2 linked regions of the Homo sapiens genome follow. The protein of the gene in region 2 purifies or fractionates together with the protein of the main gene of each other region. This does not show direct contact. Each region holds a gene or a part of one and is shown on either strand. Other genes may lie near its edges.

Region 1 (3,828 bases), on a different chromosome or scaffold from region 2:
GGTTCAGAAACTAGAAGTCTTAGTAGAGCAACAAAGAAAGACAAAGAGGATGTAAGCAAAGACAACACTGAGACATTTGTCATCTGGGAGAAGAAAAACAATAAACAAAAAACTACGGCAAATTTTCTGAGAAACAACCAGAACAGTTTAGAGAAGTATGAAGAACAGAAATCCCATGCACCTGTGCAACTATGGAACCCAAAAGATAGCCACACTGGGCTCACCTCGGTACTGGTAAAGGTGGGTGCCTGTAATTGGGCGCCGCCACAGCTTAAAGTGTTTCTTATCCATCACCATTTCCCAACGTTGCTCTTTGCCCTCTGAATCTTCATTCCCTTCTGTTTGGGCTTTTGGTTCTGGAGGGTGGTGCTGGACTCCAGAGCTCTGAAACATATTTGACATTTCTTCCAACCGCTTCATCTCATTAATAGATCTGTAAAGGGGAAAAAGAGCCATGGTGAGGTGGTTAGTCAGCCCTGTGAAATGAAGTGTCCACACAAAGGTCTGTGCAAGAAGGTTATACAGTAAACCACAGTATGTAGTATATAAACAGGACACAGTATAGTCAATAAAAACTGAGTTCCTGAGTTTGAATCTTAGTCCAACACTCACTAACTAGATTATTATTTAACCAGTTCCTATTTCTAAATCTATAAAATGGAAATAATAATAGTACCTATCTCGAGGTTGGCTATAAAGATTACAAAGTGTCAAGTGCTGCAGGGCGTGGTGGCTCACGACTGTAATCTCAACACTGGGAGGCAGAAGAGGGTGGATCACGAGGTCAGGAGCTCAAAACCAGCCTGATCAACATGGTGAAACCCTGTCTCTACTACAAACACAAAAATTAACCGGGCATGGTGGCGCGCAACTGTAATCCCAGCTACTCAGGAGGCTGAGGCAGGAGAATGACTTGAACCTGGGAGGCAGAGGTTGCAGTAAGCCGAGATCACGCCACTGCACTCTAGCCTGGGCGACAGAGTGAGACTCTTGTCTCAAAAAAAAAAAAAAAACAAAAAACAAAAAACAACGAAAAAAAAGTAAGTGTCAAGTGCTTAATATCTATGGCCAGGCACAGAGGCTCACTCCTGTAGTCCCAGCACTTTGGGAGGCCAAGGCAGGAGGACTCCTTGAGGCCAGGTTCAAGACTAACCTGGGAAACACAGTGAGACCCTACCTCTAAGAAAAAATTTAAAAAATTAGCCAGGCATAGTGGCACATGCCTGTACTCCAAGCTATAGGCTGAGATGGGAACATCACTTGAGCCCAGGAGTTGGAGGCTGTAGTGAGCTACAATTCTGCCACTGTACTCCAGTCTGGGCAATACAGTAAGACTCTGTCTCTTTTTTTTGTTTGTTTTTTTGAAACAGAGTCTCACTCTGTCACCCAGGCTAGAATAGAGTGCCATGATCTGGGCTCACTGCAACTTCCGCCTCCTGGGTTCAAGTATTTCTCCTGCCTCAGCCTCCCCAGTAGCTGGGACTACAGGCACGCGCTATCATGCCCGGCTGATTTTTTGTATTTTTAGCAGAGACAGGGTTTCACCGTGTTACCCAGGACGGTCTCAATCTCCTGACCTCATGATCTGCCCGCCTCGGCCTCCCAAAGTTCTGGGATTACAGGCGTAAACCACCGTGCCCAGCTACACTGTCTCTTAAAAAATAAAATAGGCTAGGCGCAGTGGCTCACGCCTGTAATCCCAATACTTTGGGAGGCTGAGGCAGGCGATCACCTGAGGTCAGGAGTTTGAGACCAGCCTAACCAACGTGGAGAAACCCTGTCTCTACTAAAAATACAAAATTAGCTGGGCACGGTGGCACATACCTGTAATCCCAGCTACTCGGGAGACTGAGGCAAGAGAATCGCTTGAACACGGGAGGCGGAGGTTGCAGGGAGCCAAGATCGTGCCATTGCACTCTAGCCTGGGCAACAAGAGCGAAACTCCGTCTCAAAATAAAATAAAATAAAATAAAATAAAATAAAATAAAATAAAATAAAATAAAATAAAGCCAAGCACAACGGCTCACGCCTGTAATCCCAGACTTTGGGAGGCCGAGGTGGGCGGATCACCTGAGGTCAGGAGTTCGAGACCGGCCTGGGAAACATGGTGAAACTCCATCTCTACTAAAAATACAAAAATTAGCTGGGCATGGTGGTGGACGCCTGTAATCCCAGCTACTCGGGAGGCTGAGGCAGAAGAATCACTTGAACCCAGGAGGCTGAGGGTGCAGTGAGCCAAGATCGCACCATTGCACTCCAGCCTGGGCAACAGAGTGAGACTCCATCTCTAAAATAAATAAAAAATAAAATAAAATAAAGTGTTTGTTATCTGGCACGTAAGTAGCCCTCAAATGTTAACTATGAAGGTTTATGGTTTTAAAATGTCAATTGATATCTTTTGTCCGTTTTTTATTGGGTTGTCTTATTATAAGTATGTATGTATTTTTCCCCTTTGTTTTTAAATTGATAAATTCACATACCATAAGATTCATTCTTTTACAGTGTACAATTCTGTACTTGTTAGTATATTCACAAGGTTGTGCAACCATCACCCCTAATTCCAGAACATTTTTATCACCCCCAAAAGAAACCTCTATCTATCATTAGTCACTTCCCATTCCTGCCTCCTCCCAGTCCTAGGCAGCCACTAATCTACTTTCTGTCTCTATGGAGTTGCCAATTCTGGACATTTCAAGTAAATGGAATCATATGATATGTAGCTTTTGTGTTGAGCTTCTTTCACTTAGCATACTTTCAAGTTCAACCATGCTGTACTTTATTCCTTTTTATAGCTGAATAATATTCCATTGTATGGATAGATCGCATTTTGTTTATCCATTCATCAAATAAAATTTGTTTCCACTATTTTATTATAGTGCTATTATAATAGCACTATATTATATTACTGCTATTATAATACTGCTGGCCGGACGTAGTGACTCATGCCTATAATCCTAGCACTTCGGGAGGCCAAGGTGGGTGGATCACTCTGAGGTTGAGTTCGAGACCCAGCCTGGCCAACATGGCAAAACCCCATTTCTACTAAAAATACAAAAATTAGCCAGGTGTGATGGCAGGAGCCTGGAATCCCAACTACTTGGGAGGCTGAGACAGGAGAATTGCTTGAACCCAGGAGGTGGAGGTTGCAGTGAGCCAAGATTGCACCACTTCACTCCAGCCTGGGCGAAAAGACAAAACTGTCTCAAAAAAAAAAAAAAGAATACTGCTATGGACATTTGTGTACAAATCTTCATATAGACATGTTTTCAATTCTCTTGGGTAGATTCCTAGGAGCAGATTTGATGGATCATGGTAACTATGCTTAACTTTTTAAGCAACTGCCAAAATGTTTTCCAAACAATTACACTATTTTATATTCACATCAGCAATGTTTGAGGATTCTAACTGCTCCACATCCTTGGTTCCAATTGCCCCACTTGTTATTGTCCATCTTTGTTATTCCAGCCAACTTAGTGGGTGTGAAATGGTATCTCATTGCGTCTTGACTGGTATTTCCCTAACCTTTTCATGTGCTTATACTAGTCTTGATAGTATCCTTTCATGCATAAAAGTTTTTAATTTTGATGTTTATTTTTTCTTTGATTGCTTGTTTTTGGTGTTATAGCCAAGAAACCACTGCCTAATCCAAGGTCATAAGAACTTATGCCTATATTTTCTTCTAAGAGTTTTAGAATTTTAGCTTACATTAGGTCTTTACCCCATTTCAAGTTAATGTTTGTGTATGATAATGAGGTAGGAGTCTAAACTCATTCTTTTGCATCTGCTTCTCCAGGTGACCCAGTGTCATTTGTCGAAAAGCCTATTCCT
Region 2 (3,828 bases):
AGGGGGGTTGTTCTCTGGCAGGCAGAGTGGGGGTCACAAGGTGCTCAGTAGGGGAGCTATTGAGCCAGGATGAGCCAGGAGAAGGAATTTCACAAGACAGTGTCATCAGTTAAGGCAGGAACAGGCCATTTTCCCATCTTTTGTGGTGGAATGTCATCAGTAAGGCAGGAACCGGCCATCTGGATGTGTACATGCAGGTCACGGGATATGATGGCTTAGCTTAGGCTCAGAGGCCTGACACACAGTAGAACTGATTTATTTGCAAAATAAGTTTTGTTACTATACTTGGTCTGATTTTTTGCATAAAGGGCAGCAAGAATAATTATTTACTATATAGGCTCCTTTTTAAAAAATGGCTTTGCTGGAACATTCTTTTTTGTAAAGAATCTCATATTAGACCTCTTAAAAGCATCCTGAGCCCAACCAAGGATTTATCTGTTTCTACGAGATACCTGTATGAATTAAGTGAATTCTCTCTCAAGGTCCCAAAATAAGTTGGGGTTCCTGGGCCTGTCAGAATGTGACCTTCTTTTACCCATTACAGGCCAGAAACCTGTAAAGGAACCTGTAAAGGAACTGCATAGACAAGCTGTGAGGCCAGTTTTATCCACAGGGCTATTATCAGCTTTATAAAGTCCCAATATCAATTTCTTAAAAATAGGGCATTCCAGTCAAATCCTTGATTTTTGTCTCCACTTGTGGCCTGTTACAAAACAAAACAGATTCTAACTGAATTTATGCAAATAATTATATTCCCATAAATTAGCAATAATCACTAAGAGTTTCCAAATTTCAGAGAAATCAGGCAGATAGAGGGAAATATGCTTCAAATTTTGCTCACAAGAGTATACTTTACACAAATATTAAAAGCTGTAAATGTCTAAAAAGAAAAAAATTTTGACTCTGAAAAACAAAAGTGGCAATGTTTCAACAAAACCCATAAAAAGATTATTTCAGTCTTCTATTATTTCAGTCCATGCAATTAACTCCTATTCTGTTAGATATTGGGTGAGCAATCTTCATGAACATATTAGTTCTCCATGAGAGTCCTGGGAGTTTTTTTTCTCTATACCAGTGGCACAATCTCCAAAGTTATCATAAAGCTTCATTCAAAAGCACCCCTTAGAGTCCTATAGCTAATTGCAAACCACCTTTTTAAAAGCACCAAAGTAGAACAACTGTCAATGACAGAAGTCTTAGGACAGCCATGGTCAAGGACACACTTAACAAGGAAATTTGGTTATTTCTGTGGCATATAACAATTTAACATAATAATTATAAATACTAATAACATATATAAAGACATCAGAATGATAGGAATATCACGCAATGTTGAAAAACATACTAGTAACAGGTTTAATATAAATGTAGAACAAATAAAGTTGAACACCATTTCATATTTGACAATGTTTCCTATATGATTTTAACATGCCAAATACACCGAATATGTCTGTTTTTGGCTTCAGGGGACTTAATATCAAAAAAGATAATGAGGTCAACAAGACTGAATTTAGAATTTGATTTTGGAAAGTTTGATTTTCTTCAGTCCCCACTTTGAAACTTAAAACAAGTTTCATATATTAAAAGCCAAGGTAATAGCTTTGGAGAGATTTGGGTTACGGGTATTTAGATAGAGACAGATATTGTGGTGGAAAAACAAATTACAATCACCAAACAGGTCATTGTAAATAAGTCATTCATTTAGGCAAAGTGATAACTCAAAGATTTCAAAAAGTAAAAACCTTCACTCTTTGAGAGAGAGGACTCACTTTCACAAACAATAAGACCTAATAAAGACAGCATGAGGCCAACTAAATTTGTCTCTCTTCCCCAACCCATCTTTTTTTTTTTTTTTTTGCAGTTTTCTCAAAAGGTAAGCAAAAATCTTTCACTATCTCTTAATATTAAAAGAAAATCTTATTCAAAGGAAATCTAAATTTTACCATTGCATAGCTTATTATTAATGCTAAAGTTAGCATTAATAAAATCTTACAAACAAATCTATTTAATTAGTTGTAACACAAGGTAGAGATTTTTATAAATCTTTTACAACATTTTATAATTTTCCATAAAAGAGCAGATTAGTATTCTAATAAAACCCTGATATTTTGACATAAGGGCCTAGATTCTGGCCCTGAATTAGTATGCTTTTTATTTTAAGGTTTAATTTATGCAAAAACTAAATAATCCCTTTCAAATTTTAGCCAGCTGGCTTATATATAGAATTCCTTTTACAAGATCAATGATCAATCTTTCATAAACCTTTAGTTTTGTCCACATTTTTAACTTAAAACAATCTTTAAAATCTAAAAAATTTTTTTTTGTTCTTTTGAGACCGAATCTCACTCTGTCAGCCAGGCTGGAGTGCCTGCCTCCAGGGTTCAAGTGATTCTCCTGCCTCAGCCTCCTGAGTAGCTGGGATTACAGCTGTGCATGACCACACCCGCCTAATTTTTGTATTTTTAGTAGAGACGGGGTTTCACCACGTTGGTCAGGATGGTCTCGAACCCCTGACCTCGTGATCTGCCCACCTTGGCTTCCCAAAGTGCTGGGATGACAGGCATGAACCAATGCACCCAGCCTGTAATTTTTTAAATAAATAAGACTAGCTTAATATTCGTTTCATAAAAACAGCTAAATCCTGAGCTATCTGTAAAAAAATACGTTTAACATTAAGGTTTATACTTGGGTGAACACCTGATATTCACAGGCTATAAAATAGTTAGCAAGGAAATAACTTTAAATGTGACTAGTTTTGTCTAATGTCTCAGTTCTCAAAGCAATCTAGGTAAACTGCTAACAATGAATAAATTGAACAAATATAAGTGGGATGGATAAATGCTTGTTGGTTAACTTTTATGTAATTTAAAATCTTAAACTTATTTTGGATTAAAGAACAGCTACTCATTAATAGTTTGGCTCATTTCCAATTAAGTAGAGATATGGAGAAACATGCCTAAAAATTATAGAGTGATTTCATCTATAAAGTACTGATACCTGATATGCAGTTTAGGATTTCATGTTTCCTAGGTTTAAGGTCACTAAAAATAAAAATTCCACTTAATATATAATTCTGTTTATAAAGTCTGTCAAAGACATGTTTTTGATGAAAAAAGAAAATAATATAAGACAAATAGAAAAATGTATTCTCATTAAAAAGAAAATCACTTTTGTCTAATTCAAAGGTTATTTATGAAACAAAGTAAAAAGGAACCAGTAAATAGGGGAAAGAGATGTAAAGAAAGTTATAGATATAAAGATGTATTTGTGATAAGAGAGATTAAAAAGAAAAGAGAATTATTTTGTATGATAAATAATTTTATATTTTTTTCTGAAGTAAGATGACTGGTAATCTAAGAAAGAGGGAAATTTAGGATACAATGGAAAGTCCAATCATGTTGGAAGTGGCATGTGTATAATCAAATTCATAAAAGAAATTTTGTTTGTGGTTATGTTGGCTTTAATTAAAATTGAATTATTTATAGTCGTCTTTCTGGAAACTGAGCTTTGACCAAAAAAACCACAATACAAAACCAAAACATTGGTTAGAGCAATAAGGGTTTCTTAAAGTATTGATTTGCTCTTCATTAAATTCCAAGAAGTTTTAATGTTTAATGCTATTTTTTTCTTTTTGAAACTTCTCAGATATCTCAGAAGTTCAACTTCTGGTGTATCCTGCTGCTTTTAGCCTTTTCTTCATTTGAGAATAGCTGAGATCTTAACTCTCTCTTTCAACTTTTTGTTGGCTCTGGCAAATTTTTTTTTTCTTCAGGTCTAAATCTGTTGCTATAGCCTGATGCTGAAGTGTTTCGTCTTAAAGCTTCAAAA

What was found.
Region 1: the proteins of NAT2 (region 2) and STARD7 purify together in Homo sapiens (affinity purification with mass spectrometry; 3 studies listed by BioGRID and IntAct, with this or other methods). This does not show direct contact.

The regions. Positions count from the first base shown.
Region 1 is NC_000002.12:96,195,117-96,198,944, forward strand, and holds part of STARD7 (stAR-related lipid transfer protein 7, mitochondrial isoform 1 precursor), read right to left. Parts: intron 434-3,828; coding exon 225-433; intron 1-224. UniProt on the Homo sapiens protein: May play a protective role in mucosal tissues by preventing exaggerated allergic responses.
Region 2 is NC_000008.11:18,394,112-18,397,939, forward strand, and holds part of NAT2 (arylamine N-acetyltransferase 2), read left to right. Parts: intron 1-3,828. UniProt on the Homo sapiens protein: Catalyzes the N- or O-acetylation of various arylamine and heterocyclic amine substrates. Participates in the detoxification of a plethora of hydrazine and arylamine drugs, and is able to bioactivate several known carcinogens.